Regions from separate parts of the Homo sapiens genome. Here all the other regions are reported to be linked to region 1. Evidence: microRNA targets listed by miRTarBase, many of them from high-throughput screens and not tested one by one. Region 1 holds a microRNA gene; each other region holds the end of a gene's coding sequence.
The links. Region 1 holds the annotated microRNA hsa-miR-3120-3p (CACAGCAAGUGUAGACAGGCA, at 4,559-4,579, opposite strand). A microRNA usually pairs through its seed, bases 2 to 8, with sites in the 3' UTR of a target mRNA and lowers its output. Matches are read on the target gene's strand: a 7mer-m8 pairs with bases 2 to 8, a 7mer-A1 pairs with bases 2 to 7 and ends in A, and an 8mer does both.

Region 2: miRTarBase lists ACAP2 as a target of hsa-miR-3120-3p. Seed matches in the 3' UTR shown: 7mer-m8 at 1,918-1,924, 7mer-m8 at 2,011-2,017, 7mer-m8 at 2,254-2,260 and 7mer-m8 at 2,942-2,948.
Region 3: miRTarBase lists SDHAF2 as a target of hsa-miR-3120-3p. Seed matches in the 3' UTR shown: 7mer-A1 at 4,475-4,481.
Region 4: the mRNA of FAM241A is a reported target of hsa-miR-3120-3p. Seed matches in the 3' UTR shown: 7mer-m8 at 3,412-3,418.
Region 5: the mRNA of COX5B is a reported target of hsa-miR-3120-3p. Seed matches in the 3' UTR shown: 7mer-A1 at 2,031-2,037.

What each region holds. Positions count from the first base shown.
Region 1 is chr1:172,136,832-172,143,436 of GRCh38, reverse strand. It overlaps MIR3120 (microRNA 3120), which reads right to left and starts at 4,629; the gene lies at 4,549-4,629. The region is part of intron 14 of DNM3 (dynamin 3); the gene reads right to left. DNM3OS (DNM3 opposite strand/antisense RNA) reads left to right here. Exons shown (of 4, transcript NR_103486.1): 3 at 1,224-1,301; 4 at 2,841-6,558. It overlaps MIR214 (microRNA 214), which reads left to right and starts at 4,530; the gene lies at 4,530-4,639.
Region 2 is chr3:195,273,718-195,280,322 of GRCh38, reverse strand. ACAP2 (ArfGAP with coiled-coil, ankyrin repeat and PH domains 2) reads left to right here. Exons shown (of 23, transcript NM_012287.6): 23 at 895-5,578. The coding sequence ends at 995. Among named protein-coding and RNA genes, the nearest start is that of XXYLT1, 5.9 kb to the right of the region's middle.
Region 3 is chr11:61,444,317-61,450,921 of GRCh38, reverse strand. It overlaps SDHAF2 (succinate dehydrogenase complex assembly factor 2), which reads right to left. Exons shown (of 4, transcript NM_017841.4): 4 at 4,189-4,981. The coding sequence ends at 4,851. It also overlaps the pseudogene RN7SL23P. Among named protein-coding and RNA genes, the nearest start is that of SDHAF2, 17 kb to the right of the region's middle. RefSeq lists an enhancer at 3,833-4,580.
Region 4 is chr4:112,185,495-112,192,099 of GRCh38, forward strand. It overlaps FAM241A (family with sequence similarity 241 member A), which reads left to right. Exons shown (of 2, transcript NM_152400.3): 2 at 1,199-6,605. The coding sequence ends at 1,444. Among named protein-coding and RNA genes, the nearest start is that of AP1AR, 43 kb to the right of the region's middle.
Region 5 is chr2:97,646,105-97,652,709 of GRCh38, forward strand. It overlaps COX5B (cytochrome c oxidase subunit 5B), which reads left to right. Exons shown (of 4, transcript NM_001862.3): 1 at 1-85; 2 at 963-1,036; 3 at 1,240-1,339; 4 at 1,892-2,279. The coding sequence ends at 2,004. Among named protein-coding and RNA genes, the nearest start is that of COX5B, 3.3 kb to the left of the region's middle. RefSeq lists an enhancer at 1-62.

The DNA.
Region 1 (6,605 bases):
GTGATCTGTGCTGAACTTTAGAGGTCGGCCCCTTAAAGAAAGTTCTGGAAAAATGTTATTGCCTCATCCCTAATTTTCTTAACCCCCATTAATTTCTATTCCGAAACAATTCTATATAATGAAAACATCTCTTCTACAGGGTTTGTGAAAAATAAACATAATCTCTTTTGTCCTCCTTTAAAGTTACAGTGGTTCCTGAACAAATTCTTTTCTAAGTTATACATTTTGCAACAATTCAAAAATTGACTCAAGTTCTCTTTAGCAAAATATTTTATTATAAAAGATTCCCTAAGTTTTCTTTTGTCAAAACAACTTACTTTAAAAATTACCCTTCTGATCACCCCAAAATGTGTATAAAGAAAACATTAAGTATTCTCATATATTCATGATTATTAGTTAAAATATAAACAGCAAGGAGAAATTTAGCTACTTTCACTTAGATGATATAGTAAAGTTATCCTTTCATTTTCTATTGTGACTTGGAGAGTTCCATATTAATTATTTTTAGTAGAACAAATGAGATGTTAAAAATCTATATAGTTTCTTTTACATAAGAAAACTAAAAAAAGTAACTTAGAGGAGCTCATTTTTTCAAGAAATATATTTTTTCTAATTGATACAATTACTGAAGAGGAAAAATAGCTAACAAGGTACTTTGGTAATGTTTTTCTCAAATTTTCTGGGTTTTTTTTTTTTTTTTACTCTAGAAATGATTACATTTCAAAATTTGCTTTCATTTAATGTATATTTAATTTCAATTTCTTTCTTCATGTTAAACGGTCTTTTTGTTTCAAAGAAATGAATCCCTATGGGTCCCTCACCTATTTTCTCCCTCAGGATGACTTTTAGTCTGGAGATAGAAGGGACATAAGGGTGCCTCTGGCATAAGTACAGGAGTAGAAATATAAGAATTACTTTGTAAAAGGATAACCAAGGAGTTCCTGCACATGCTTGATGTGGCTCTAGCGACTTATTTTCGAGGCAAAGTTTTAACAAATGAAAACGAATAGTACTTATTTTTCAATTATATGGGCTAAATTAAAGATCAAAGGTAAAAGCTCATTTTATAAAGCTCTGCTGAATGAAGGCAGGATTGTAGTTTATGCGCTGGTACACACGCCCACATTTATATACATTATAGCCATATCTATATCCAGGTAAATTAGAAAAATGTTTAATTTTATTTTCATATTACTTTATAAGGAGATATACAAATATTTTAGGGATCATGGAATCTATTCCAGAGGAAACTAACCAACAGTGAGCATCTTCAACTAAAACTACCCCTGGATGTAATAAGTGTAAGTATTAAAATTAAACATTATATGTGGTCATGAAGAGAAAATTGTTTCAGGGTCTGTCCAAACTACACTTCATAGAAATTTCATAATTATTTTTCATTTTAGCATGTGAATGATTGATAAATTGGACTAGGTACTGGGTTAAAAGGACTTTTCCACCATCTAAGAGAAAGGAAGTTCAGAGCCTTAGCTTCAACACCACAATTTCTTAACTGGAAAAGGATCAATCTAAAACGGTGGACTTAAATTTTCAAACTCATTTTTCTTTTAGGCCACAGATCTCAAAATCAAAGAAAGACTGTTTACTATAGGACAAAGTTTCACACTGATCACTTTCCTGTAGTTAGTCAATAGGCTTAATATCCTTCCTGCTTGGCATTCGGGCTTTCGGCCCAGATAATATGTTTATGTTTGTAAAAGACCAAAATATACTATCTACCCCCACCTCTCGCCTACAGACCACCCATGTATTTCACTCTGTGGGAAACAGTTTAGGCATAAAAATCCTAACGAAAGAATTCTCCCCACTTTTTTGGTTGAAGTCTTAAGCTGTTATAAGATATAAAAAGTACAACTTGGTAATGTGAAAAAATTCACTCATCCACAAGCATCCATGCTCGGTAAAGAGACGCCAAAGCTTTCACTTACTCTGTAAGGGATCTGCTCTTTATAAACAATGCACTTTACTCTGCTCTAAGGAGAATAGCCCACCCATCACAATAACGTCAAAATAATAACTAAGAGACCATCACTCAGAAATCCTGGCTTAAAATAACTAGAAGGTCAGGCTTTAACCTGAGACAGGAAATTCCTGAGTTAAGATAGAAACTTTCTTACTTCAAATCCCTTCTTACTTTCATGTTCTGTAAATTAAGTAGAAATAAATATTTACTCATTTTCAAAGGTCTCTTACAAATAATTTTTATCAGTTTTAATAGTTAGAGATAACGAAGTAAATTAGGAAAAATAATTAAATCTTCATTTTGAATTTTTTGACTTAGCGTGACAGCCAGTTTCCTGGAGTTGCTTTGGTTTAATTTCACTACAGAAGACTTAGAAGACAATTCTTTTCTTACATTTTTTTCCTTAAGAAATAAAAGACAAAAAGAAAACAAGGTGTAATAACCACACTAAAAATTACATGGTATGATAATAATACAAATAGCTCTTTTATGTTTTAGCTAGTATTTTAAGTAATAATAAACTAATATTCAACCTATAATTTGGGAGATTAAAAAAAGGTCAATATGGTTTTCAGTCTTTCATCTTTTTAACAAGTTTAGGGGCAGGTTCAACATAACAATGAAGTGTGCATATGTCACATAGTTACTGTAAGTGTGTTTTAAAAATCTATCAGAAACATAAATTGTCCAAAAGCCTTATGAATAGAACAATTGTTTTCAGCAAGATTTTTTTTTTCCCCTGAAAAACTGTTGTGGTTTTTCTGGCTCAAAAAATTTTTATATCTTGCCTTAATAAAACTGTTTTATATTAAAGCATAACATACAAACTCACAAATATTTCTTTTTATTTTTTCAGGTTGCATGCATCATTCCTTTAATTGAGCAGAGTTAACTGGATCAAATTATTTATGGGAGAGAGAGGAAAAGTTATAAAGAATTATAGTAATTTTTAATTTCCACCAATATACTCTTTGTAAGTGAATCACTCTATAATTACTTTCTGTTGCACTGAATGCAGCAACAATAACACAATAGTATTTTAAGGCACTGGTTTTTGGCATACTCTAACCTTGTAATTATTTAAATAACAGCCAAGTTTACTCATGTTTTTGATTCTGTCAAGAAAAAAAAAAAGTTCCTTTACTCGAAAGTGATGGCCGAAACAGAATCGGAAATTTGTTTTCTTGAAATTACATAAATACACAGAAAATGGCACTTATTAGCTTTTGTTAAAACATTACCTTACCTAATCACTGCATAAAAGTCCAGATTTGTAGAAAATTGTAATTTTCTCAGTATCTAAAACTATTTTGCTTTCCATTAAGTTTCTATTTGCTATTTTCTCAGAATTTTACAATTAAAGATAAATCACAAACTGTTTGTTTTTCTTAAAGTTCTTTGAGAAAATGTCTAATTATACAATCCTTGGACAATACTGTGTTTTTTTGGTGCTGTGTTTTTTAAGAAGTCCTACTTACTGGAATTTTGACTATTTGGATATTTTTGTTTTTAAAAGGGGAGGGGAATTTGCTTAATACTTCTAAAGATGTGAATTGATAATTGATATTAAAATAGAATTACTCTCAACTCACCAGAATTAAATTTTATATCTGCATATTTAACACTATTAGCTCATATAAATTATAAGAAAAATTTTCAAAGGATCTGGTTTTAATTTTTTGGATATGAAATGAATTTGCCTTTTCTGCCTTTTCTTAAGTACTATTTTGTAACTATATTGCACTAACTATATCCAAAACACATTCTGAGCATCACTGTGAGTAACAGCCTTCCAGTTTGTACCCTTTTGATTCACAGCATGGCCCTATAGTTAATTAAGAGGTGGATAACTTAAGCTCACAACTGCCTTTAATTTGATTTCACATCCACAGTTATAAACTTTGCATTTAAAAGGAAAATGAGACATTTAAATAGGTTCCTGTTGTTTCACATATAATTGGTAAAAACATATTCCCTTGTAGGATCCTATTATCAGAGCATCAAATACCAAAGTCAGCAACTTGGGTTGCCAAATAAATTAGGCTCATTAATTATTTTGAAAAGGGCTGCTGTTTCCATGTAAATGATAATTTTCTTTTTCATGGACAAGGTTATGGTACTTATCTACTAAAAGAAACATGCATAAACATAGTTTTTATCTTTAACTTCAGTATTAAAATATGCAGTTTTTTGCAAAGAGGAAAAACATCTGGTTCAATTACGCTGAACTCTGACTACATGTGGGCCAGTAATAATATGAATTGGACTTAAGAATAAACCTTGTGTTTAATCTCTTTTTTTCCTTAAAATTTTAATGTGAGTTTTCTGTTACGCAAATTATCCATGTTAGCACATTTGGAACAAATGTATAAATGTACTTTCTGAATAAAGTCAAAAGTCTAACTTGTTTTTAGTTCCATAATGTTTTAATGTTTAATTATATTGTGTATTTTTCTCCCTTTCCCCTTACTCTCCAAAATCACCAAATCTGGAAAACAGGCTGATTGTATCTGTCTATGAGCAAAGGAAACCTGAAGGAACCAAGGGCCTGGCTGGACAGAGTTGTCATGTGTCTGCCTGTCTACACTTGCTGTGCAGAACATCCGCTCACCTGTACAGCAGGCACAGACAGGCAGTCACATGACAACCCAGCCTGAATGACAACCAGCCATTGAAAGAAAGCAGCCCTCACACCATAGCATCTACACCAAGAGCTACAACCAAAATGAGGGGCTCGGGGGCCTGGGGTTTTAATCTGTTGGTTTAATACTTAACTCATGTATTATTTTATTTTGATTCAAGTATTAAAACCCACCAAAAGTAAAGTGAGTGGTGCCTATGAAATATAATAAAACCCATTTCTGAAAATGTTCCTGTGCATTCTATAGTTCTCTTTTCCTAATTGTTGTCAGCAAATCACTACCCTTGACCTTTATTGTACACAGCTTTGCAGCACCCTATATTGATATAAAAACTCAATATAACAAAACAATATAACTTCAGTCTGATGCTTAACAAAGAATAAATTATTCTAAGAATTCTTGTCCATAAACTAAGTATGGTTTTCTATGTCATGATTTTTTTTTTTTTTTTTTTTTTTTGGAAGGGGATAGGGTGGAAAGACAGAGAAAAGAAAAGGGAGAAAAAGAGTATTCCAAAGGATCAAGTGCTTTGAGTTAACTCTGCCAGTCTGGGTTAACTCTGCCAGTCTGGGTCTGGGCAAAACACAGTGAAAAGACTACTATTTCCAACTAGTGTTCAACTATATTAAAATAATAGTTTCTCCTCTTTTGACATATGGAAAGTTGAAATTTTTGATACTTCCACGCGTCATGGTATACATAAATTTATGACTGCGTCATTCTTTAATTAAGAAGGTGCTTATGCTACAGTTCTAGGAGTAGAATTTACAAGGCCAACACATTCACTTGCAACCTATGCTTCCATCACTATAAACTTTCAAGATCTTGAGATGTTCAGGCAATTCATTTATCTTCAGAAGCATAAGGAAAGTGGTTAATGCACTTGAAATGTATATTTTGACACATCTTTTGAGAAAATATCCAAACTTCAGTTTATGCACTGTTAACTGGAGTGAAATGATAAGGGATGGCTTTTGTCTATGAATACTTTAAATACTTAAGGGTAAAAGGTGGGAAGATGGATAAAATTAGAAATGTGTCAACTTTTATTTAGTTCATTAACATGTTTTAGCTTCAGTATTTGAAATTAATTTTCATCTTTCTTAGATTCTGGTCAAGCTTAAAAAATGTAACACAAGGCTACTCAAAACTTTTTTCACATTTAACAATTAAACACTTTATGTATGTATTCTTAACTAAAGCAAACTATTTTTCATTCAGCTATTTTATTTTTAAAATGAAAGTCTCAGTCTTAAAGCTAAGATCCCAGTGAGTTTCAAATTTTCTGACAATGATATTTTAACCAAACCTGACATTATAGTTTCTTTAATTAAAAAACTGAATGATGGGGCAAAACTACAAAGCACAAATATGATTAAAGTTAAATTTCTCTCATTTAAACAATCTTGTCTTATGGCAATATGTCATCTGCTAAAATTCATCTCTGCTTCTGCAAGATACATTGCACGATGCAGATTTTTGCCTTAAATAAAAGTCCCATTACTAGCAAATAAAGTCCTAAACAATACTTACAAAATGTAGAATATAAACAGGAAGACAATATAAAAATTACTCACAGAATATCGACATCGTTCTACCCAATCTTAAATGCCTTGTACCACCTGTTGCAAATGCTGCCTATGAGAGTTCACGTATGGAATTATTCTACTGGACCCTGCAAGGCTCAGGAGAGTGCTTGACAGCTCCCAGAATGAGACAATGACCTAGCCAGAACATTAAGGAGACTACACCCGTCCTTCAGACTCCAAAGGGAAAGCTAGGACGGCAGCAGAGTCATCCTAAGGTGAGGCACTCCAGGATAACATTTTCAATATTTTTCCTTAAAACATAAAGTTAACACCTTTTTTGTTAAACATTTTTTACTCAATTTTCAAAAAAAATGCTTGAAAGAATGTTTTGTATGTATTTTAAAGTCATTAAATGAGGCACATTTAAAAATTTTTCTCTTCTGGGAAAGG
Region 2 (6,605 bases), not on the chromosome of region 1:
TTTTTGTATTTTTAGTAGAGACAGGGTTTCATCATGTTGGCCGGGCGGTCTCAAACTCCTGACCTCAGGTGATCTGCCCGCCTCAGCCTCCCAAAGTGCTGGGGTTACAGGCATGAGCCACCACACCTGGCCTTAAAGCCATTTTCTAGGATTTTGTTGTTAATTTTTGTAGAGATGTAGTCTCGCTATGTTGCCCAGACTGGTCTTGAACTCCTGGCCTCAACCAATTCTCCCCCCAACCCCCCCACCCAGCTTCCCAAAGTGTTGGGGTTATAGGCGTGAGGCACTGCACCCAGCTAGATTTTTATTTTATGAGTTTAGGAAGCAGTGGATTAGGTGCATTAGTTTTAATTACGCATTAAAGTTTGAGTAAAAAATTACTTTTTCAAATTGCTTTTAATTAAAAGATAGTATTATTTTTCCCTATCTGATTATCAGTTTGTCTTGATTATCAGTTTGTCTTGTTAATAACTTGCATCCATCCAAAACATTAGTATTTGGTTTTAGTCATTTCTTTTGGCCTTTATCAAGGGAAATATTTATTTAAAGAAGGTCTCATTTACTCCACCTCATTTAGAATGACTTTTCCCCCCCGTGTGTTAATAAACGTATTTCTTTACATTGCTTTAAAACACTTGCATCTTTGCTCTTTTCTAACTCTGAGCTTTCTTCTGTGGCTGCATCTGAGGTGCTTTTTTCAGGTATAGTTTTTTTTTTTCTTTCATTGCATAATTTTTCAGCATTTATTTTTAGTTGCCCCTTTTCTTCCAAAAATGCTCATCTGAACAAAATTTTAATGTAATGAATTATAAAATAGTACTAGTAATAAATATGAATGTTGTTTGATTAATACTTGTGTAAATGTTTAAAGTGTCTTTATTTTATTTCATGCAGGTGATGAAACTTATCAGGACATATTTCGTGATTTTTCCCAAATGGCATCCAATAATCCAGAGAAACTAAATCGTTTCCAGCAAGATTCACAGAAATTCTGAATTTTTTTAAAAATGGGAAAATATGAAATCTGGTGACCCCCTAATGTATACAGCTAAAAAATCACAATTTTTTTACTGCTTTAATTCTACTTAATTTTGGTAGATATTGAATGGCTTGGAAAAGAGGTACCCATTCATATATTTATAAATTAAAACATAGTTATCTAGTAGTAGGAGAGGAACCTAGTTTAGGACCTCTTTTATTAAAAAAGCCTATTTAAAGGGCTATTTCTGTAGACAGAAGTTCAGTCTAGATTTAGGCCATCTCTAGGTTACAAGATGATAGGAGGTTAGACAAAAGTGATTCTTTTGCCAATGGGTGGTGGCATTGATTTTTTTCCTCCATGCATCTTGCCCAGGATCACTCAGTCAAGCATGTCTTCATCAAGTGGAAGCCAACTGTCCTGCCTGCCTCAAGAATATGTGTTTTCTTTAGCTTCCCTGAGGCTTTTTGGTGGTTCAGAAATAGGTGTGTGTGTTGATGTGTTTTTGGTAACCTAGCTTTCATACACATAATATATGATTTATTAGAACTAGAGAATGTGTTTTCCCCGTTTGTTCATAAATGCGGTCGGTTATACTTCTTAGGTGACAGGTTATTGTCCAGTACTTTAATGTATGTATGTATAATGGCTGTACAGGTAGACCATAATTCAGTCCTTTAGATTTATTTTATGCAGCAAAAAGAAGCTCTTTTTTTTTTTTAATCACAAAAAAAAACCCCAGTTCAAAATGTGTAGTTCTTCATTGTTGGGTTGATTCCCCAAAACCTTGACAGATGTATCGATGGAATAAAAGTATGTTTTAAAGGTTACTTGAATGTCACAAAATTATGCCTTCATCAAAACTTTAAAGGAAAAATCAATTTATAAAATCATGTAGGCCATTTTTATATTTGAAATTTGTCCTTTTAAAGATAGTTTTGCTGTTGCTCCTAGTGAAAGAAAAATCTCTGTACAAAGGAGAAAAAGAACCCCACTTATTCTTAGTTAATACTAAAATATATAGCAATAAATTGCTGTTTATTTTTTCTACATCTATTTTGTGTACTTGTACACAGTGTACATTCTTTTAAATTATATCGTGTATATAGCTTTAGTATTCGGTTACATGATTCACAGACCCCTGAATTCCAAAATATTATGGATAAACATTACCATTTATATGCTACAAATTAGTCTGATTCCATCTTTGAAAATGTCTTAAAGTATAAAATAATTAATTTGCTTTTTTTTTTTTTTTTTCCCGAGATGGCGTCTTGCTGTGTCACCCAGGCTGGAGTGCAGTGGCACGATCTCAGCTCACTGCAGCCTCCTCCTCTTGGGTTCAAGCAATTCTCCTGCCTCAGCCTCCCGAGTAGCTGGGACTACAGGCACCCGCCACCATTCCGAGCTAATTTCTATATTTTTAGTAAAGACGGGTTTCACCATTTTGGCCAGGTTGGTCTCGAACTCCTGACCTCAGGTGATCAGCCTGCTTTAGCCTCCCAGAGTGCTGGGATTACAGGCGTGAGCCACCGCACCCAGCCTAATTTGCCTTTTGATTCCTTCCCATTGTTGTCAACAATTAAGTCTATTCTTCTTTTAGAAATTATATGTAAATGATATTATTGATACTCTTTCTAAATAAGAGGTTTTAAAATATATAAAAACTTTATGATCCAATTATAGATAAATTTTCTAACATTTCCCAGTCACTAGGGTTTTATAAGTTGATTAAACATCAAATCAGAATCTAGCCAAGCAGGAATTATATTGAAATAAGTTCACATTACAGAAAAGGTTCCATAATTTGGCCAAACTGCATGCATGTAATGCTTATTTAGTAATGGTCACTGTATGTTAGATAAGGATAAAAATATATTTGTGAATTACTTCTGAGGAAATGCTAACTTCCACAGCATTGTATTTAATTATAACAATAACAGGAACATTAAATCTTTATCTTTGCTGTTTCACCTCAAAGTCATAGATCATCTGGCTTTTTAGGCACCTTCACTAAAGGCAAAAATCTGATTTGTAGTTTTTATTAGCATGTACCTTGAAATTATTTGACCAAGAAGCTCAAAGAAAAGAAGTACGTTAAAGAAAAAGAAAAAACCTCACTTTTCCTTTATAGTGTCCCTTCCTGTTTTAATTCCTAAAGATCCTGACTTTTATCTGAGGAAGTCTAGGTAGTTTTCCTTTTGGATCTGGCCATTGGTGCGTGTTTCATTCAGATCACCTCTGGAATCTCTGTGGTTGTGAAGGCAATTCCTTATGAGACTCTTGCCTCCTGTGGCTTACGTGATGAATTGTTAATATGGCAGTAATTAATTAGTATCTACTTAAATTTAGTGGTCAGAAATGTATTTGAAGTGCCTTAAAGATGATCATGGTTCAGAATATCTTCAGAGAAAGCAAAATCTTTAATATTGCAGGGAGCCTAGCAATACAAGTACACATTTCTGTGGCTTGATTTCTTGAATATGCTGAGACCCAATTTGGACTACATTTGGCAGAAATGATGGAGTAAACAGCAAGGCTTTAAATTAAATTAATAGTTACAAGGTAGGTTGGCTCTTAGGTGAATTTAGCCATGTCAACTAATAGCTTTTATATGGTATGTAACAAATCTGAATTATGTTATGCTGTGAATTATTCAGTGCATTATAAGAAATCTTAGTTAATCATGCTTTTGGGCTTCATTAGTCAATGTGATTGGCCTTTTATTTTCTTTCCATAACTTATCTGCTATTATTAGTTTCTTATTCCTTATTATTAATCTGTTAGCTCATTATCATTAGCTTACTAACTTGAAAGTTAGATTAATATCAAAATAAGAATAGCAGCACTATGAAGAGTTAATAAAATGCAATTTCATGTTAGAGCTAGAATAAAAGTAATTGAGCAGTCATTTGCAAATGCTTCATTATAACATTTATGTGCTTAAGATTTCTAAGGTTTTAAAAAGTTACCTTTAATACAATCCTTAGAAACTCAGAAATTTCCTGATATTCATTAGATTATGGTGTTTGCCTAATTTATACCGGTTTTCACTGTATATTTTAATGAACTTTGATTGGTTACTTTTCCAGACATACAGATTTAATTTGGAATATGAACTTTGGTTCTTCATGAGTGCATTTTGAAAAAGAAAAAAAGTACACATTCAGAATCTGGCCAATTTAAGTTTGTATTTTAAAAATATTTTATGCATGTTAAGTATGGTCGCAGTAAATGAAATTGTGTTTAAGACTAAATTTACTACCGTTTTGAACAGACATTCCCAGATCATTCTTATATTGTCAGATAACACTTGTGTATAATATCACTTTGGATCATGGACATGAGCTGGAAAAATGATGTATTTTTGTAGATTGTATGTCCAGAATGACTTTAGAACCGCATGATACGGTGGAAGGAGCACTGGACTAGTCGTCACTACCCTTTTTGGATTCAGGGCTCCTCACAATTAAAATGAGTGTAATGAAACAAGGTGAAAATATAGAAGCATCCCTTTGTATACTGTTTTGCTACTTACAGTGTACTTGGCATTGCTTTATCTCACTGGATTCTCATGGTAGGATTTCTGAGATCTTAATCTAAGCTCCAAAGTTGTCTACTTTTTTGATCCTAGGGTGCTCCTTTTGTTTTACAGAGCAGGGTCACTTGATTTGCTAGCTGGTGGCAGAATTGGCACCATTACCCAGGTCTGACTGACCACCAGTCAGAGGCACTTTATTTGTATCATGAAATGATTTGAAATCATTGTAAAGCAGCGAAGTCTGATAATGAATGCCAGCTTTCCTTGTGCTTTGATAACAAAGACTCCAAATATTCTGGAGAACCTGGATAAAAGTTTGAAGGGCTAGATTGGGATTTGAAGACAAAATTGTAGGAAATCTTACATTTTTGCAATAACAAACATTAATGAAAGCAAAACATTATAAAAGTAATTTTAATTCACCACATACTTATCAATTTCTTGATGCTTCCAAATGACATCTACAGATATGGTTTTGTGGACATCTTTTTCTGTTTACATAAATTTATCCACTTAAAATGTGATAATGTGGAGACAAAGCAAGATTTGATTACATAAACTTTTCTCTGCATTGGTCTTTTCACTATCTTATTTGCTAACTTTTCTTATTTTTCTTCAACCTCCCCACCCTCCATTTTTTGGATATTAAACAGGGAAAGCTTGCTACATTATAAAGATTGTTGGCACCATTTATTTTACACAAAGGCTAAAGGTTAACTTTTGGAAATGATGAGCTACTTTTATATATGTGTTTACTCATGCTTTGTGATATTTCTGGATCATTCCAGTCATAAAGACTTATTACATGTACTATTTCTTGCTACCTGTGAAAAGGTATATTTTAAAGAATGTATAACCAACAGTCCATTTACTTTTTATTAGTATGTAGAGGATTTGTATCTAATTCATGAATGTAGTTTTACAGTAGTTTGTCATTGTAAATGGAGCAAAGTACATTATCTTCTAAAATGTACATTATGTAAGAATTGTAAATATACTTAAGTAATTTGTATGCCAAAAAATTACAATAAGTCAATAAAGATCTCACCTCTGGCTTAGTTCTTTCATGGTGATTTACATTTTCTTGTGAAATACACTGTGAACATATCTGTCAACAGCAGTTATTTTTAAGGTACTATTATTTTTAAGGTATTTCTTCCCAGCCCTTTCAAATCCACATTCATCCTATTTGCTGATTACTTCAATCAAGAAATCCATTTGGATCTTTTAAGTATATAATTCTCTTTGTTCACAGAGCTGTTATAGCCCCTAATTCATTGGCAAAAAGATAAAAGGTTTTTTTTGGGGGGTGGGGGGAGGGGCTTGCTCTAAGTTTTTTCCATTATGATTGACATTAATGTTCCTAATCTATGCAGCACATTCCCATTTTATCCTTTTAGTAAACAGACACACACACGTTTGTCAGTGAATTGGGACTGAAGGAATGGAAGGTTGAAAAAACCAAACTGGAAGTGTATCACCTGCATTTGCTTTAAAAAAAAAAAAGCTAATTGAAAGCAGACACATAAACTTTTCAATATAACTTGCTTTATTCAGCTTCATTTCATTTTCAGAATAGTTCTGTGGAGAACCCACATCAATAGTCTATAAATATTTTAAGTGAAAACAGTTTAATTTTTCAATTATTGCAAACACAAAGCTTTTTGCTTGTGGAGAAATGTTAAGAAGAAGCAAGAGAATCATCCACAATTCCATTATCTTGTGCTGTCCAAAATGGAACTCACTAGCTACATGTGGCTACTTAATTGGAATTAGACAAAGAGTTCATTTCCTCAGTCGTACTGCTACATTTTAAGAACTTTATAGCCCCATGTGGCTAGTGACTATTGTTTTGAACAGGGGAGATTGTAGAATATATACATTGTCACAGGAAGTTCTACTGGATAGCACTGAGGGAGATACTGTTACTTTTTTGTGTATACCCTTCTAGACCTTTGGGTGTGTGTATTCATACATTTATATAATGGGATCATACAGTTACCCACTTCTTTCACTTAATAGATGGGGAGAACTTTATGGGAAATTTCAAGCATGTACAGGTAGAGAAAATCAATAGCTATAAGC
Region 3 (6,605 bases), not on the chromosome of region 1:
GACGGCCCAGAAAGCATAAGAGCTCATCTCTGCTGCTCAGGGTAAGGAGAAAACGCTTGAAGCTGGGTAGAACTTGAGCCCTTCCCTCTGGCTCCCCTCCAAATCCACAGGAAGTCTCTGAACTCCAAGCTCTCACCTGGAGAGCTAGGCTGCACATGTCCTCCTTGGAAGGCTCAGATGGTTAAGTCTAGAGCTGCTGAGGCTGTGACATATGAGTCATGGTCCCCAGGTCCTATAGGGAACCAAGAGAGGGTGGCCCAATCTGTGCAAAGTTGTCCACACCAGCAGTCTGCCATGGACCAAGACAAGATTCAGGATGAGAGGTCGTTAGAAGAGAGATGATGATGCTTTTCATGTTTTGAGGCAGGGTAGCACATGGTACCTAAGTGCAAGGGCCCTGGGGCCCACTGCCTGGCTTCAAACCCTAGCCCAACCGCTTCCTATCTGTGACTTTGAGCTAGCAACTTTATCTCACCGAGCCTCACTTTCCTCATCTCTAAGACGGGAATAATCATTGCACCTATCTCACGGTATTGTGGGATGAAATGACGTAAAGCACTCAGCAGCACTGGGTACACAACAAGCCGAACTATTAGATGTTACTACCAAGTATTACTGAGGGTACAGGGGCTGTACTAAGCTCTCCAGGGGCAGGACTTTATTCAGTCCTTATACCCACACTGTGAGGTCGGGTTCCTTTTCTTTCCTTTCCACAGATGAGAAACAGAAGCTTGGAGAGGTTAAATAATGTGTTTCAGGTCACCCAGCTAATCAATGGGAGCTCCAGGATTCTAGGTTAGGCCTGATTCCTAAACAGCTCCCCTTAACTACTCTGTTCTATTTCCCCTAAACACGTGTTCCAGGGCATCACCAGAGGAGAATATTTTATTAAATATTAGCCAAATCACCTGAATCCACTGAGAAACAGAATGTACATCTTAACGTTCTCACTTGCTGAAAGTTCCATGCTGTGATGTGTTGTTACAGAAAATGATATATCCACCCTCCCCCACTTTTTTCCTTTTATACTCTAATCTCATGACAGATTATACAATCCCCTTCTTAAAGAAACATTCTCCTTTTTGAAAGGAATATTTGGCACTTTGGGAGGCTGAGGCAGGCGGATCACATGAGGCCTGTAGTTCGAGACCAGTCTGTCCAACATGGTGAAACTCCGTCTCTACTAAAAACACAAAAATTGGCCAGGCATGGTAGCGTGCACCTGTAATCCCAGCTACTAGGGTGGCTGAGGCATGGAATCGCTTGAACCCAGGCAGAGCTTGCAGTGAGGGGAGATCCTGCCACTGCACTCCAGCCTGGGTGACAGTGAGACCCTGTCTCAAAAAAAAAAAAAAAAAAAGGAGTATCTGGGGTCTGAGATCCGGGATCCAACAAAAGGCTTTTAACTCTTCTTTTGCAGCTATAGGTGATGATAAATCTACCCATCTCCTTTAAAGACTGATGTTGTCCTGGATAGCTTAAACTTTCTACCACCCCTCTAACAAACTGCTAACAACACTTGTTTCTTAAGCCACAAAAAGTACTGCTGGCCTGAAGCCACCTATCCCACCAATGCCATCTTCCCTGACAGGAAAATTCGAACACCACTCCTCATTCCCAGAGGGTTCACTGGGAAACTGAGGTGTCAGGAGTTAGTTTCACTGGGTACTGATCAGTGTCATCAACTTGATAGCTGCGGGATGGTGAGTCCACTGTCCTCAGATACTACAGAACATACTATTAAGTGGGGCTGTCAGCTCAAAAATCTCACAGACCTGCTTGCCATCTACAGCTGTTTAGCTTATCATTAAACCTTCCTCTCTTTGTCTAGCCACAAATAGCTGCAGATGGACTGAAGGATAAATGAGAGACCCCAACTATCCCATCGGAATCTTTTCCCAGTGATGTTTAAAAATATGAACCAGGTCTGTATTGGTGCCACCCTGGCTGGAGCAGAAGACATACCAGATGACCTCCAGATAACACTCAAAGCCAGTAAGAGTGCTTCTACAATGACCCCCAAAAGACACACTCTGTCTAAGGCACAGAAAGCTCCAGCACAAGGTGTTTGGCTTATGGATTTTTAAGACTTAGGATGATTAAAAGGAAACGATGGAAAGAGAACAGCCTTTCCTGACCCAATTTAAGGTGTCACGTGGAGAGCCTGTGCAGGACTCACAAGACCACTTGAGTCGGTCAGGACAGGGCCAGACGCTCATATGCCCCACACAGGCTCTGAATGAGGTCAGTAAGCAGGGATGTGTCAAAGTAAAAGGAATGAGTCTAGCTTCTGTGCATTAGCGATCCTTCGGGGGCTGCTGGCCCTTGCTATATGTTTATTAATTCCTAAAAAAATGCACTGTGGCCGGCCTAGTTTTACTTAATGCCTAATAAAGGGAAAAACTGTTTACATAGCATCCCTGGGCCTGACAACTGAGCAGGTGAACTTAGCAAGATCCTTCACTTTCAAAGATGACACAATCCAGCAGCCTGGGAGGAAAACAATTCCTCTAGAAGCATGCCATTCCCAGGTGAAAGCGGCAGCAATTGAACATTGTGTTAAATAAGACAAAATCAGGATAAGAAGGGATCAAACCCGAGGGGGAGAAAAGTTCCAACTACATCCTTGGCTACTGGGGTTTGTTGCATAACGTGCAAAGGATAAATGGGTAAGTCACCGCCCAATTCATGTGCACTTCGTACAGTCCAGATCTATGTCTATATATAAACTCCCGGCCTGCTTAACATTCTCCCCAGGGTACATAAATGCAGCCCGAGAGAATAGCCAGAGTCTTCAGCAAGCTCCCAGGGAGACGTCTCCTTCCTCGCCTGCCCTGCTTCTGCGAGTCTCACTTCCATTCCTTGCTTAGGGGAGAGTGCTAGATTTTTCCATCAAAGGTCTTGTCACCAGGGTCTGTTTTCTCTCTCGTCTTCACTGGGAGGTAAGACATTCTGTGGTTCTATTAATAGGCTCAGCTTTCTGACCTGCAGATGAGAAACCCTGGATGTAGCTATGGTGACCTCATTGATATGCCAGGCAATTTGTGTTAGGGACAGGTTTTAAGTCTCAGACTGAGGCTATGACTAAATGCTGACATTCATATCTAGAGTACATACTGTGCAAGTTACCATGTAAGAGCTTTGTGTGTTTCATCTCATCAACTAGCTGAGACAGGAAGCATTGTCATCCCCATTTTATAGATGAGGCAACTGAGGCTCAGGTCAATTCATGTATCCAGCAGGTAAGCAGCAGAGCCAGGATTTAAATGTGTAACCAGTGCACTGCGCTGCTTCCTCACAGAAGCTTCACTGGGTGATCAAGTTCAGATCTACTCACTTGGCGAAGCACCTGGCAGATTCCTACCCACCATGTAACACAGAGGTCATGTCTCAGAACTGTCACATCTATTTGCCACAGCTTTCCCAAACAGAGACTTCTATTAAATTTCCAGCAGTAAGGCAGTGTGTTCTAGTAGAAAGTTCAAGAGCTTTGGAGGCAGACTGAGCTATACTAAATTCTGCTTTTTCGACTCAATAGCTACCTGACCTTGGACAAATTACTTCCTCTCTCTGAGCCCACTTTCTTATGTATAAAATACAGGTAACACCACTAGTCTAGAGTGCTGTGAGGCTTAACTGTGATTACGTAAAGGCTAGATCTCTTCCCTTCCCTCCTGAGCCACCAGGGATACTGAAGAGCAGGCAGGAACCATGAGGTGGCTCTGTAGGAACCCTGGAGCTCAACAATGCTGGAAACATGTGCGTGTGTAGTCCCTGTGTGCGGCTCCTATAATCACCAACCACCTGCTCATCAAATCTGGCCGACCTTCTTCTAGTCAACACCTTTAGATGCACCTGGTCCAGTCTGGGTGACTGATTCTACTGCCTAGATTACAGCTCTGAGGGCAAAACCCCTCCAGGGAGGGCACCACTAGCAACACAGAAGTCACACAGCCCTAGAGCTTTTAAAAACACTTCTAACTAATTCATTCTAATATATTATTTCTTATGTATTATTATTTAGTCAACTAATTGTGAAGACTGTAGGAATGAGGGGGAAAGTTTTCTATAGTGCTACATGAAAATAAAACCTGTAATTGTGAACTTGTAAAACTCTATAAACATGACTATGGGTTATATGAAAATAGACAAAATTAAAATTAATTGTGAGGGCTGGGAAATTGTAAATTTCCTTTTTTCAGTATGCTTTAATAATTCTCTTTCAAATTACAAAGTGCACGTTTTAAAGAAAGCCCAATGATGAAGATGTTGACTCCTAAGCAGTGTGCCCACACCACTCCTGCCTGTGGCCCTCATTCTGCCTGCTGTGCCTTTGAAGGATTCAGCTCAGGAGGCTGGGATCAGCTTCCCTTCGCAGAAGGAGCCATACCAGGTTGGAAGTGGGGAGTTCCACTTCAACAAAGCCCTGGGCCACTGAGGGCGGGGAGCTGCAGGGAGGGCGGGAGGCTTTCCATACAGCACGCACAGCTGGCTGCCTCTTTTCTTTGAGTACACTTGGGCTGAGGCAATGAGCAAGCACAACTGCTTCGCCTGCAGTGCCCTCTCGTGGCAGACTTGCCTCTAGAGATAGCAGCCAGGCAAAGCCTGCATGCCAGCGCTGCTGACAAATCACTTTTGAGGCTCAGAGCTGAACAAAAAAGTATGAGAATGAGTCACATTGTGCATTTACATGTATGTCCTAGGAGAGGGTTATGTCCATCACTTGAGGCAGGACCAGTGGTCTGGGGTAGGGCAGCTGGGCATCTAAGAAGCCGGAAGCAAGGCTAACGTCCATCATAAGTAGTTACCATCCACAGACTGAACCCCCATGCCAGGCCGTGGAGCACAGCTCAACGTGGCTTTTCAAAGAGGTACTCAAGATCTGGGGCACGCAGTCTCTGCTCTTTGTTTTTGTTTTTAGCAAAGTCTCTCAGCAGGGCCATGACTTCATTTTCAAATATTTCTGGGGCTGGTTTAGCTTCTGCAAGAGAAGAGTGGGCAGAAAAAATTATGCCATAGTCAGTCAATGCTCAGGTATGAGAATCTTAAAACTCGAAACACTGGCCAAGAACCACAGATGGATATATAGACTGTCTCCATCCTTCTTCTAAATATACACGATGTTAGCCTATACCAGGGGGTGGCAAACTGTGTGAGCCTATATTTGCAAGTCGTTTTATTGGAACAGCTGCTCCCAATGGTTTACATATTACCCATGCTCCTTTTGTGTTATGACAGCAGAATTGGGTACTTGCAACAGAGACCATATGACTACAAGTAAAATACTTACTATCTGGTCCTTTATGAACAAGTTTGCTGACCCCTGGCCCGCACAATCTTGGCTGTACTATTTTGCTTTGCATTTGGCAATTCCATTGTTCCCCAGACATTGTGTTTTCCCTTGCAATGTATATATCTCTTGAAACAAAAGCTCTCTCCTTTGTCTATCAGTTAGAGGTCCTCAGTTTTAAGAGACAGAAACTAATAACTCTAGTAAACTTAAGCAAAAAGGAATTTATTGGAAGGATATTGGAGGCACACAGAACTGTCATGAGCCTAAAGAACCAGATTTCAGTGAACGGGCAACATAGGCACTGAGTCAGAAGAATGAGAAGGCCAGCCTCAGTCTACGGCAGTGGGTCTGGCAGTGTGCTGCTCCCCCTGACCTTTCTCTACACCCTTGGGACACTTATTTAAGATGCCAATTACAAGCAAAGCCTCCCACTGCCAAAGCCGAGGCAATGTGCTCCAGAATTACCCTTCCACCAACACTAGGTACGACGCCAGGAGAGAGAATTCCTCAAAACCAAGTCAGATTCTCCCTTACTCAGCACAGGGCCTGGCATCTAGTGAGGGCTCTGTTTTCATGTGACAATCAACATAAGATCAAAGAGGTTTTGGCTTCCCCCAAGAAAGTAGAAAGTTGGAAAGAATATTGCACTCACTGTAACAACAAGAAAAAGCCAGATAAATTACAAATATTATGACTTTTCTCAAAGATATCAGAGAACTGAGGTCACGAGGCAACCCAACAGACGAAACCTAAGGAAAAAGAGGCCCTTCAAAGGAGAAACGAGAGCCATGCACTTGCTCACCTGTGGCAGGCACAGGAAGAAGAGACACTGGACATCATACAAATGGGTAAAAGGAATTCAGCTAAAAAAATTTTTTTTTTTGTTTGAGACGAGTCTCACTCTGTCGCCCAGGCTGGAGTGCAGTGGTGCGATCTGGACTCACTGCAAGCTCCACCTCCTGGGCTCACGCCATTCTCCCGCCTCAGCCTCCCGAGTAGCTGGCACCACAGGCGCCCGCCACCACGCTCGGCTGATTTTTTGTAATTTTTTTTTTTTTAGTAGAGATGGGGTTTCACTGTGTTAGTCAGGCTGGTCTTGGTCTCCTGACCTTGTGATCCGCCCACCTCTGCCTCCCAAAGTGCTGGGATCACAGGCGTGAGCCACCACGCCCAGCCAAAAAAATTTGTTTTAAATTAATACAGACAGGGCCAGCCTTATGTTGCCCAGGGGAGACTGCAGTGGCTAGTCAGAGGTGCAATTCCACCACTGATCAGCACAGGAATTTCGACCTGTCCCATTTCCAGCGTGGGC
Region 4 (6,605 bases), not on the chromosome of region 1:
TTTAAAAACCACTGCACTAAAATATCACCAAGACAACCACTCATAGGACTGGGCAGAAAGAAAAAGAGATGGATGGACTTACTGAAACTGAGAAGCTTCAAAAAGGCCCCCATGGAACTGAAATTCAGACTTTTGAGAACAGGTCACTGCTTGCCTGGTACTGATTTCTCTGAGTTCAGAGGAGGGAGCCTATAGACCTGGGAACCAGGTATCTGAGGAAGAAGCACCCAGTAATTGGAGCTGGCATCTCAAGAAGGCACATTGAGATTGGTTCTACAAGTGTTGGAAAACCCCCAAATTGCAATCAGCTGCTACTACTAGCAGGCACTATTGCTGTCGGAGTGAAGAATTGTTGCTAGAGTGAGACTTAACAGGATTAAGAAACCCATCCGAAGGAAACAGCAAATTCCTTCTTCCTTCTCTACCTGTGAAGTGTCACGCTGGTCCCTCTATTGGCAGAGCCTAACAGGGAGACAGAAATGCTTGCAGAATTCCAAAGAGTGGGTTTGAAGCCAAGAGACAGTAGCTTACTGTCATGGCCTTAATTATAATACAAGTGGAAGATAATAGAAATAATACTTTAGGTATGTATAATTGGGTGCATGTAGACATTTTCTGGGATACTAACTACTGGGTAGACATTTGGCCTTATTGTAAAAAAAAAAAATTTGTATTAAAACTATTTGTTTCTCCTGATGAAATTAATAAGAGGCATTTAGGGCATCTATATAATGAACAGGAAACTATGCAAGGGCCTGCGCTGAAGTCTGCTTAGCTGAGCCTAAGACAAAGATCACAGCAGTAGTGGCTGAGGATTGCTCAATAATAACAGCAAACATGCTTTGGTCATCTGAGGCTCGGTTTCTTAACGTCTTAGTGTCAAAGGAACCGTCTAAAAAGAATCTTACCAGGACAGAGCAGTCAGGCCTTGCCTCATAAAACAGGAGGGTGGCAGAAAAGGGTGTTCTGAAATCATGGTCACTCACAAGAGAAATACAAACATGATTCTTCACTTAAGCAGTCATTTTTGTGCAATTCCAGGATCAAAAAGAACATTCCCATTGTGTTAACAGGTACTTGTAGAATAATTATCAGAAGTATGCCCAGCACTTTGGAAGATGAAGAACTAAGGTTCTTAAAGACGTTTACATATTTCTCATGTTATGTTCATGTTTTGTCTTTTTTTTTTTTTTTAAAGGATGTTGAAGACTCACAGAACCACACTGGTGAGCCGGTTGGAGATGACTACAAGAAAATGGGAACACTTTTTGGTGAACTGAACAAAAACCTTATCAACATGGGCTTCACAAGGATGTATTTTGGAGAACGAATAGTGGAACCAGTAATAGTCATTTTCTTTTGGGTTATGCTGTGGTTCCTTGGCCTGCAAGCCCTTGGACTAGTTGCTGTTCTTTGCCTTGTTATTATTTATGTGCAACAGTAAAACATGGCCGAATTGAATTGTTTGACATTTGGTAGCCATATATGTAATTGAAGAAGTTATATATTTCACTTTTTGACAACCGAAAAAGTTTGCCTTGTTTCAAATCATGTGCTGGCTGTTTTGTAAGTAAATTTATACATGGATGTCACTTAAAACTAAACTCTTGATCATAACAGGGTTGAATATATATTTTGAATATACATTAGCTTATTCAAAACTCTTGTTTCACTACTGTGATCTCTGTCTCCTTTATACACCTCTATCCCCATGCCAAATCTTAAGTAACACCACCAGAAAGTGAACAGGGAAAATAACAGGACATGGAATTCAAATCAAGCAATATAGTTCTTATAAAGAGTTCCAATAAAACATTTCAGAAGAAAAAGTATGAAACAAGCTAAAAGTAAGTTTCACTTAGAAAACTTCTCCCCACTCACACTCCCCACCAAATAATCTCATATTATTTGGGAAATATTTGGATTTCAATTGTCCCTACCCAGCCTAAACTAAGGTAAATGATAATTAGCATACACTACCTTAATATTGTGATGAAAATCAGTAAAGATAGAACGTTTTCTAAAGGTCAAAAATAATATATTTATTATTACTGGGGAAAGCTCCCAGGTTAAATATAACTTTTTTAAAATGTAACATTTGGACCTAGACCTACTTTAATATATCATTTGAAGTTTCAGACAATTTTGGTGCTAATTACTTTTTGTGAGTTTTTAAAGTCTCATAGCCTAGTTGACTGCACCCTATGGTAATGCCATATTTTCTTGTATCTAACAAGTTGCATATTTTTTCCTAGAGAGACATTTTCAGTGTATTTTTTTTTAGAAATTTATAATTTTATAGTTCTTTCATAACACTTATTCTGAGTTTTGAAACAATGTATTTCCTATCTTGACATGGATTTTTTCACAAAAAATTTGTATTTTACTGTTGTTTTCAGGAAAAAAATCAGATCATTTTTCTTTGATATCTATATCAGAAAGGTACAATATTAACAGTATAAAACCAAATGCTTAAATTTGGAACTTAGCCAATTTTGATAATCTTTTTCTAAGGCTAAAGTCACATCAGTAATTGGCTAGCCATGTTATTAAGGTGTCTTAATTCAGCATTTTCAGGTTTTATATTGAAATACGCATTTCTTTAAATATTCTTTGAAAATGGAGAATGGCTTTAGTGATATTTTGGGTTTTGTTAGAGAACCTAAAATCTTTACACTTTCATCTCAAAGATTATAAAGGAAAGGGGGGTAGTTAAGATTTAGAATTCAAGTTAAATTTCAGAAATTGGGGCAGTCAGGCATTTGTATCTTTGGTAGGGCAACAAGTAAAACATGTAGAGTGCTTGCTATCCCACTTCATAAAGCTTTTACCCAATCTTATTTCTAAACCTCTGTGCATTCTTAGTGTCTTCTCATTCTGAAACAGAAAATAAGGAAAAACATTTAACTTAGTTTTCTAAAATCAGATAATCCTAAACAAAAATGTTAGTCAGGGTCACTAAAAAGTATTGCACATTTATATAAATACAGTCCTTTTAAAATTTGACTTTTAAAAAACAAAAGACTTTGTACGATATTGTGTTTTTATTGCTTTTGCAATATTTTTATAGTAGCCTTTATGAACTCAGTATAAGTGCAAGTTGTTTGAAAAGGTGTTTTTATTAGTGCACAATAGAATTGTGAGGTTTTCAATAGATGTCATGAGATTTTGTATATCTACATAAAATATCAGTACATTTTTTTCTAATGCTACTGGAAATTTTACTTTTCCTTTGCAACACATAAATGATATGATGTACAAAATAACAGCTCTGGTTCCACCAGTACCTAATGTTGAAAACATTTTTAAAGTAATTTTTAATACTAACTATTTAGTATACTGTCAGTACTGTACATCTGCACACTGGTGTTAATAGGGTATATATTAAATTATATAAAGAAATAAGATATTTTGCTGTTATTCTTTCTACATATATTATTGGTCAGTACATCAAATAATATTTGGCTTTGATATGGGAAAAAACAAACTTTGCCTATGTAATGGAAATAAAATATTTTCTTTTATGAAATATATTAGAATGCAGATTATACTAATATCCTGAAATAAAACTGGTAATTTATTTGGTTCATGGTATAAAGAATTAGATTGGGCCGGGCGCGGTGGCTCACGCCTGTAATCCTAGCACTTTGGGAGGCTGAGGCGGGTGGATCACAAGGTCAGGAGATCGAGACCTTCCTGGCTAACATGGTGAAACCCCATCCCTACTAAAGGTACAAAAAATTAGCCGGGCCTGGTGGCAGGTGCCTGTCGTCCCAGCTACTCAGGAGGCTGAGGCAGGAGAATGGCGTGAACCCGGGAGGCAGAGCTTGCAGTGAGCACTCCAGCACTCTGGGTAACAGAGTGAGACCCCATCTCAAAAAAAAAAAAAAAAAAAAAAAAATTGGATTGAAAATGATTCTCATCATTTCAATCTCAAATACAAGCCAGTTTTAGAAACTGTTATTGCTTATGAATAAAGAAATAGAAGTTACAATGCTAAGGTTATTACATAATGCATACTCATATGGCCAGTAATTCAAAAGAAAAAGGTCGAAGTCTACAAATAAACAGACTGTAGATGAGTAAATCCATTTTTCTTAAAGTAAAAACTCTGTATTTTGTAGAATTCTGTCCTCTCATACCTTAAGCTGTCATGGGCAAGGTATTTTCCCATTCCTGGCTACAGGCAGATCATTCCTAGTCCAGTAGTGTGCTGGAGCAAGCTTGCACTGGCTTACAAGAGCCAACTGTGAACATTTTTTCTGCCTTCAGTGCTGTCAAGTTGGTAGTTTGAAATTGGCCATGGTGAGAGTATTTACACCAAAAAAATTAGTAAACACTGCAAATCAGATCTTTTTTTTTTTTTTTTCCTTGAAAGCCAGCTGTTAAACATACATCAGCACACCCTAGAGGCCACATTCCCATTTCTATTCCTACAGATACGAAAGTAAAGAACAGAACACATTTTGTGAAATAAAAGAAAGCATATGAGGTAAATCCCCATCGACCCACCCAAAACTGAATCTGGCTCTTTCCCTTGTGGGTATTATGGTTCATGGTTATCTTCTGACCAACAAATCTCTATTTAATCATGTTTTGACCACAGAAAATCTCTCTAGGCTGTCACCAAGCTGTAAATCCACTAAAGACTATCCAGGCAATCAGGAAAGGCAAAACTTACAGAATGATAGAGGAAAAATTACAGTATAAGTAAAGGTCTGTTGTAATATAGAAAGCTCAAAATAGTCAAAGCCAGGTTTGGAGCAATCAAAGGCTATTCGTGTGGTTCATAGATTGTTTTAATAGTTATTTTACAAATGTTTATTAATTTCAGGTGTTTAAAATGCTTTCATTACCAATTTATGGCTTTACAATTGAAGGGAGAAAAAAAAATGTAAGACGGCCAGGCGCGGTGGCTCATCCCTATAAAAGTGCTGGGACAGCACTTTGGGAGGCCGAAGCGGGCGGATCACCTGAGGTCGGGAGTTCGAGACTAGCCTGACCAACATGGAGAAACCCCGTCTCTACTAAAAAAAAAAAAAAAAAAATACAAAATTAGCTAGGCGTGGTGGTGCATGCCTGTAATCTCAGCTACTCAGGAGGCTGAGGCAGGAGAGTCGCTTGAACCCGGAAGCCAAAGTTTGCAGTGAGCCAAGATTATGCCCTTGCACTCAATCTGGGCAACAAGAGCGAAACTCCATCTCAAAAAAAAAAAAAAAAGACTTTCATGCCTGGTAATAGAGTTGGCCGAGAAGAATATAAACTTATTTACAAACTATGACTTCAGGAGTATTGGTGGATTAGAGGTCATTTGCAACTCTTGTCTCTCTGCCCAACATTTAATTTTTGGTATGCGTTGGAGTTCAGTCCAACAGCCTGCTCTCACATCACTCCACACAGCAGCTCGGCAATGTCACCACTCCCGTGGCTGCAGAGTTACCATTTGCATCCTAACAGCTCCCCAATTTGCATCTCTAGATCAGAGCACTGTACAGAATTTAAGACTCCTACATTCAATTGCTTGCCCAATATTTATTTGCATTTGGTTATCCCATAGTACCCAAGACTCAGCGTGTCCAAACGAGCGCAGCATCCTTCTCCCAAATCTTTAATTCCTGTTTCCCATCTCAGCAAATGACACAATCCTTTCCCTAACTGCTCAAGCAGGAGTTGTAGATGACATCCTTGACTCTGTGTTTCCTACACTACCTACATGTAACCAAGTACCAAATCTATTTTACTTCTAAAAATATAATCTTTCTACTTCTATTCATTCCTAGCATCACTGAGTCCATTCTGCCATCATCTCACCTGGCATGCTGAGAATCCTGATTAGCCTCCCTACCTTCATTTTCCACTTTGTAGTTACAGATCTTTCTAAAGAATTATTCTAACATGATTCTGATATCCTTGACCTAAATCTTTTCAATGGCTTTCTGTTTTCGTTATGATAAAGTCCTTATGCCTTAATATGTTTTACAAGGCTCTTCATGTACTGGTTCTTGCGTACCTCATCTCTCTATACTGCCACTCTCCATTTCCAGGATTCAACTATACTGAACTTTTCCCCAGTTCCTTTAAAGAGACATGCTTTCTTACTTCCAGAACTTTGTACATGCTTTACTTCTTTAACTGCTCCCTACCAGACTGACCAATATCTACACAGCCTTAAGACCTCAAGTGAGACATCATGTCCTCCAGGGAAACTTCTCTGACTCCTTTAAATCCAGTTTTGGTTCTTCATTATGGCTTGGTTTCTCAAGTGCAACCCTGTGCTTTCCAGGTCAGCACTTCTCATGCTATATTGCAATAGCTTATTTGTCAGCTGCTGCTTTAATAATTGATTAATTATTAAATTAATCAATAGGCTTCACAAGGGAAGAGAACATGTCTGTCATTCTATAATTGCATTGCTAGTGCCTAACACAATGCCTGGGACATAATAGGCCATCAAAATATTTATCAAGTAAACCCACTTCATCTACTCATGGTCTTCATATAGACCACTAACAAAAAAGATCTAGAGCTGGTTGTACTTTGAAGTTCTTTGACTCCAAAAGTATACTTACTGTGCACAAAGAGCATGGGTTGATGTATACATTATA
Region 5 (6,605 bases), not on the chromosome of region 1:
CGCGGAGCTGGAACGCTGGCCGCGCAGGCCCTGAGGGCTCGCGGCCCCAGTGGCGCGGCCGCGATGCGCTCCATGGCATCTGGAGGTACTCGGGTCTCCGGGCGTGCCAGGGACCAGAGTGTTGCCCTCCCAGGGTGGTCCCAGGGCGGCAAAGCGGCGCGGCTCGTGCAGCTTCTCGAGGTCCCAGTGGCCGCTTTACGGTCCCCAGTGCCTCAGGCTCTGCAGGCATCTCCCTGTAATTCTGGACCGCTGCTCCTGCCGCTCCCCGAACTCACTCCGCTGCGAAAGTATCCTAAACGGAGGTGCCGGGTGACCTTGGGAGGGACCGGGGCTGCCACCGGGATGGGGAGGGGTCCGGCCTCCCTTCAAACCTGCGCCCACCTCAAGCAGAGTGGGTTCTACATGCTTTTAGACAAATGTCGACAAATTTGCCTCGGTGGTTGGAGAAAGAAAAGCTCATAGGCCGGGCGCGGTGGCTCACAACTGTAATCCCAGCACTTTGGGAGGCCGAGGCGGACAGATCCCCTGAGGTCAGGAGCTCAAGACCAGCCTGGCCAACATGGTAAAACCCCGTTTCTACTAAAAATACAAAAATTAGCCGGGCGTGGTGGCGCGCGCCTGTAGTCCCAGCTACTCGGGAGGCTGAGGCAGGAGAATCGCTTAAACCCGGGAGGCGGAGGTTCCCGTGAGCCAACATCGCGCCATTGCACTCCAGCCTGGGCAACAAGAGCAAAACTCCGTCTCAAAAAAGAAAAAAAAAGCTCCCCCGAGTGCTGCCGCTTGTGTGGATGGGTACTTGGTGGTTCTTAGGGGACCATGGATATGAGTAGCCTTTAGGAGCTTGTGAGCCCGCTAAAACTTATACAGAAGTTTCGGGGCACCATTTTCCTTGATCATTTCTGTTTGTAGTTTTTCTATCAGTCATTTCAGTCAGCGTCATAATTCACGTTATCTTCCTTTAGGTGGTGTTCCCACTGATGAAGAGCAGGCGACTGGGTTGGAGAGGGAGATCATGCTGGCTGCAAAGAAGGGACTGGTAAGGAGAAACTCCCTTCTGTGTCTTCTGTGTAACTTATGGCCTTGGATGTGTTCATAGTGGTCTCCTCTCTGGGAGTATTTGATACAGGAAACTTGGCTTGTAGGAACAGTCCCCTGAGCTTCTGGAAGGTAGGGCTTATTTGGCCTAATGGTTCAATTCTTGTTTTTTTTGTTTTGTTTTGTTTTTTGTTTTTTCTTCAGGACCCATACAATGTACTGGCCCCAAAGGGAGCTTCAGGCACCAGGGAAGACCCTAATTTAGTCCCCTCCATCTCCAACAAGAGAATAGTAGGCTGCATCTGTAAGTACCTCACCTCTATTTTTTATCCACTTGCTTAATATATCCTACAATAGTGTGTAAGCTGCCTCAAATCTTCAGTGTGTGAGTGCATGTTGGTAAGTTTGTCTAAGGGTCTTGACACTCTCAAGCCTCATTATGCCTGATAGTTCATCCTTACTGGAAAGAAGCGCAGCACAGCGGTAAGACTGGCTCACTGGGAGTGCGGCATGAAGGAGTACCCACCCAGCAAATATTTATTGTTATACTGCTTCTATGCCAGGCATCATTTTAGACACTAGGGATACATACCAGAACGGACCCTGCTTTGCGTTCTACATAGGCAAGGGAATTGTTAGAATTTACAGTGACCTTGATACAAGGTCAGTTTACTCATAGGTGAACTCAGAGCCTCAATTTCTTCATCTGAAGAATGGGAGGAGGGCTTGAACTGATCTCTTAAGATATCAACCATAGTCTTACTTGTGTATCAGAGATGTCTGAGGAAAAGAAATTCATGTTGAAAGTCTCCCTTTCTAGGTTGGATGACCATAAACCACCTTTTTTCCCTTTTAGGTGAAGAGGACAATACCAGCGTCGTCTGGTTTTGGCTGCACAAAGGCGAGGCCCAGCGATGCCCCCGCTGTGGAGCCCATTACAAGCTGGTGCCCCAGCAGCTGGCACACTGAGCACCTGCACTAAATTACTCAAAATGTGCTGTAAAGTTTCTTCTTTCCAGTAAAGACTAGCCATTGCATTGGCTCCTTCTCCCATAGATGGCTGGTCTTATTTCTTACCCGTATTCTTTGGTAGGCATGGAATATGCTTATTTTGGGAAAAGCTGTCTGTTAATGCTAGCTTGCCATCCACTTACTGAAAGTGTATAACCAGTGTATAGTGCTTAGATTAATAATAAGAATAGATCGACAACCCGTAATGCAATGAATGGGACCACCTGGTATGAGAGAAAGGGGCGGGCTGAGGAGTCAGGCTGACAGGACTTAAAATATTGGCTCCATCATTTGGCTCTATCTCTGTGGACATGTTCTCTGGGGGTCAAGTACAACTACAAAAAGGTAAGTACCTTACAAGGTGCTTAATATGTAAAGAGCTGAGTGGATAGTAGGTCCTCACAGTATCCTCATAGAGACAGGGTGGCCTTGTGAAGAGAGTTTTGGGGATTTTGAAGTCTTGAGGGACCCAGGTGCAAAGTAAGAATTCATGGGGATACCAGCAGCAAAATTCAGAATATGGAACAATTTCAGAAATCACTGACCATGTTTCTTCAAATAAATTGCAAGGAGTGGGGGGAAAAGCTAGGGAGAACATGTGGAGAAACAGATAAGGGAGATACCAGTCAGCAGCATGCACACCTTGTTTAGATCTTGATTTGAAAACAATTATAAAGGAAAAAAAATTGAGAAGAATTTGAACTCTGGATATTTGATATGTAGACATTTACCACCCTTTCAGGTATTTATATAGTTTTGTTTTGTTTTTTTTAATGCTTGAGATACGCACAGGAATAAGGGAGGGGAGAAATGCCAAAAAAGCCCACTTTAGCTGCTTCATACCTGTGACACCTTGGGACAAGTTAAAATCTCAAAACCCTCTTACCTACAAAATGGAAATACCTTTTCATTTTGTGTGGAGATTAGCCAGAGGTGGCTTCAGTTACTATCTTCACAAAATTGGTCGAAAGTAGGTATTTCAGTGGGAGCTGATAGAGTCAGAGAAAAGCCCCTTCCCCTCATCTTGCCCATCCTGAAGGTGTAGTCAAAGCTATTGCTTCCATCCTTGTTGTTCATGACCTGTGTCCAGGAAATGTCTAAGCACTGACCTGCCATTTAAGGCCCTTTCCTCTGGGAAGGGGAGCTCTCAGATAACCCCCTGTGAAATCTAACCCCTACACGCCCATGAGATTAGTCTGTGCTGTCACTAAGCCCTCCTGTGTGGCTGGCCTGCCTTTCCCTTTCCACATCTCTTCCAACTCAAACTCGGCTGAGGGAGACTTTTGACTCCCCACATCATTAATCCAGTCTGTTTTCTCCCTCCCTCATCTCCAAGTCTTTGCTTTTCTTTTTTAAAATTTAACCAATTTACTTGTAAAGAAAAATTGGCTGGGCATGGTGGCTCATGCCTGTAACCACAACACTTTGGGAGGCTGAGGTGGAAAGGACCACTTGAACCCAGGAGTTTGAGGCTTCAGTGAGCCATGACCGTGCCACTGCACTCCAGCCTGGGTGACAAAGCAAGACCTTGTCTCAAACCAAAAAAACAAGCGGAAAGAAAAATCTCCAGTACATTTCCAGACAGTGGCAGGCAGAATAATGATCCCCCAAAGATGTCCGCGTCATAAATCCCTAGAATCTGTGAATATGTTAGGTCACATAGCAAGAAGGAATTAAGACTACAGATGGAATTCAGGTTGCTAATCAGCTGACCTTAAAACAGTTATTCCCAGATTATCCAGGTGGATCCAAAAAGCACAAAAGAGGCAAAAGAGAGTCAGAGATGTGACTCAGAATGGTCAGAGAGATGCAATGTTGGTGGCTTTGAAGATGGAGGAAGGGGTCCACGAGCCAAGGAAGGCAAGTAGCTATTCTAAAAGCTGGGAAGGGCAAGGAAATGATACTCTAGTCTTCAGAAAGGAGTGAAGCCCTGCTGATACTTTCACTTCAGCCTAGTGAGACCCACATTAGACTTAGGAACCGTAAGATAATAACTAACTATTTTTTTTTTTTGAGACAGAGTCTTGCTCTGTCGCCCAGCCTGGAGTGCAGTGGCACGATCTTGGCTCACTGCAAGCTCCGCCTTCTGGGTTCACGCCACTCTCCCGCCTCAGCCTCCTGAATAGCTGGGACTACAGGCGCCTGCCACCACGCCCAGCTAATTTTTTTTTTTTTTTTTTAGTAGAGACGGGGTTTCACTGTGTTATCCAGGATGGTCTTGATCTCCTGACCTGTGATCCGCCCGCCTCGGCCTCCCAAAGTGCTGGGATTACAGGTGTGAGCCACCGTGCCCGGCCATAAACTTGTGTTATTTTAAGCCACTAAGTTTGTGAGAATTTTCTGTGGCACTAATAGGAAAAGAATACACAGATCAATAAATCCAATCCCTGAGTCAGTAGGTCTCATATTTAGCTGCACCTTAGAACCACCTGGGGATCTTTTACAACTCCCAGTGCCCAGGCCACACCCAGACATTAAAATAGTATCTTGGGGTAGGACCCAAGCATCAGAAGTTTAAAGTTCCACAGGTGTTTCCAACAGCAAGGCTGAGAACTGCTTCAGGCTAACCATATGGAATAGCTCGCTTCCTTGCCTCATGGTAACTGGGAGCCCTAGTGGTAGGGGGAAAGATATAATGTTCCCCACTAGGAGGACAAAACTTTTGCTTTTGGGTAGAAGTGGGCTCCATCTGAACCTCTGGCCACTTAGCAGCTTAAATTGGATGCCATCTCCACTCACCAAGGAAGAATATAAGCCTCACTCTAACTGTATTAAACTCTTTCCAAGTATACAAGGAAGAACTTTTTCCCAGGGCCATTTGAAAGTAAGGTGATCTGATGCCCCATCACACGCATGTTTATTTCTTACAAAGACATTCTCTTAATACCCACAACATGACCATCAAAATCACAAAACTACGATTTGTATATTTCTACCATCTAATCTTCAGACTCATTTAAGTTTTGCTAGAAGTTCCAATAATGTCTTCTATAGCAAAAGGAGTCAACTCAGAATCACGTGTTGCCCTTAGTTGTTCCATCTGGAACAGTTCCTGTCTTTCCTTGACTATCCCGACCTTGACACTTTTAAGAATTATACCAACAACTTGGGTTTGTCTCTTTCACACTGGATTCAGGTTACGCATGGTGGGCAAGGAATGCTGCCCCCTTCCTGGGAGGCACGTGATGCCCACTTGTCCACTGCTGAGGAGGTTCACTTCTGTCACTTGATGAAGCTAATGTCTGCCAAACTTCACTGTGAAGTTGCTCTTTACTATCTTATGAGGCACTACTTAGAAATGTCAATACCTTGTTCCTCATCAAACTTTCAGCTTACTAATTATCAGTATGGATTCATACTTTATTTTATTCAGTGGATTATAATCCATGGCTATCATTATTTATTTTTTGATGTTTAATTTGTTCCAAATTTGGCCAGCGGGAACCTCTTCTAGCTGGCTCCTGTGGCCTTTTGACATGCCTCTATCATTTGAGATGGAGTCTCACTCTGTTGCCCAGGCTGGAGTGCAGTGGCATGATCTTGGCTCACTGCAAGCTCCACCTCCTGGGTTCATGCCATTCTCCTGCCTCAGCCTCCCAAATAGCTGGGACTACAGGCGCCCGCCACCACGCCCAGCTAATTTTTTGTACTTTTAGTAGAGACAGGTTTTCACCGTGTTAGCCAGGATGGTCTCGATCTCTTGACCTCGTGATCCGCCCGCCTCGGCCTCCCAAAGTGCTGGGATTATAGGTGTGAGCCACTGCGCCCGGCCTCTTTGAGCATTTCTTTTTATTTTCTGGAATAAAATGTTCCAGGCTTGTCTTCCAGGCTGTGAATAAACCCATGAGGAAGCTGCTATTATTACCATCCCCATAATAGAGATGGGGAAGCCTGGGGACAGCTCAGGAATACACAGCTAGCAATTTCTTGTGGCAAGATTGTGAACCCAGACCATAGCTCCAGACCCTGAGCTCTTTTCCCCCACCCCAACTTTTAAGTTATTATTTTTGAAACAGGGTCTTTGTCACCCAGGCTGGAGTGCAGTGGTTTGTTCATAGCTCACTGGAACCTCGAAATCCTGGGCTCAAGCAATCCTGCAGCCTCGGCCTCCCAAAGTGCTGGGATTACAGGCATGTGACACCACACGCAGCGCAATTTTCTATTTTAAAATAATTTTAGACTTACAGAAAAATTGCAAAAAATAATAGAGTTCCTACTTAACCTTCACTCAGTTTTCCTTAATGTTAACACCTGGCAGTACCATAGCATAATTATTGAAACCAGGAAATTAACACTGATGCAGTACTATGGACTAACCAGCAGACCTTATCATGATTTTGCTGGCTTTCCTGGTAAGGTCTTTTTTCCAACCTAGGATCTCACATTGCACTTGGTCTTTCCTTGTCCCCATGACCTGCCACTTTTGAACAAGGCAACTCTATTCATTTGTAGACTGCCCTCAGTTTGGGTTTGCCTACTGCTTGCTCCTGGTTAGACTGAGGTGATGCAAGAATACCAGAGGGAAAATCAGGCCCCTCTTAGTGCATCATCAAGAGACA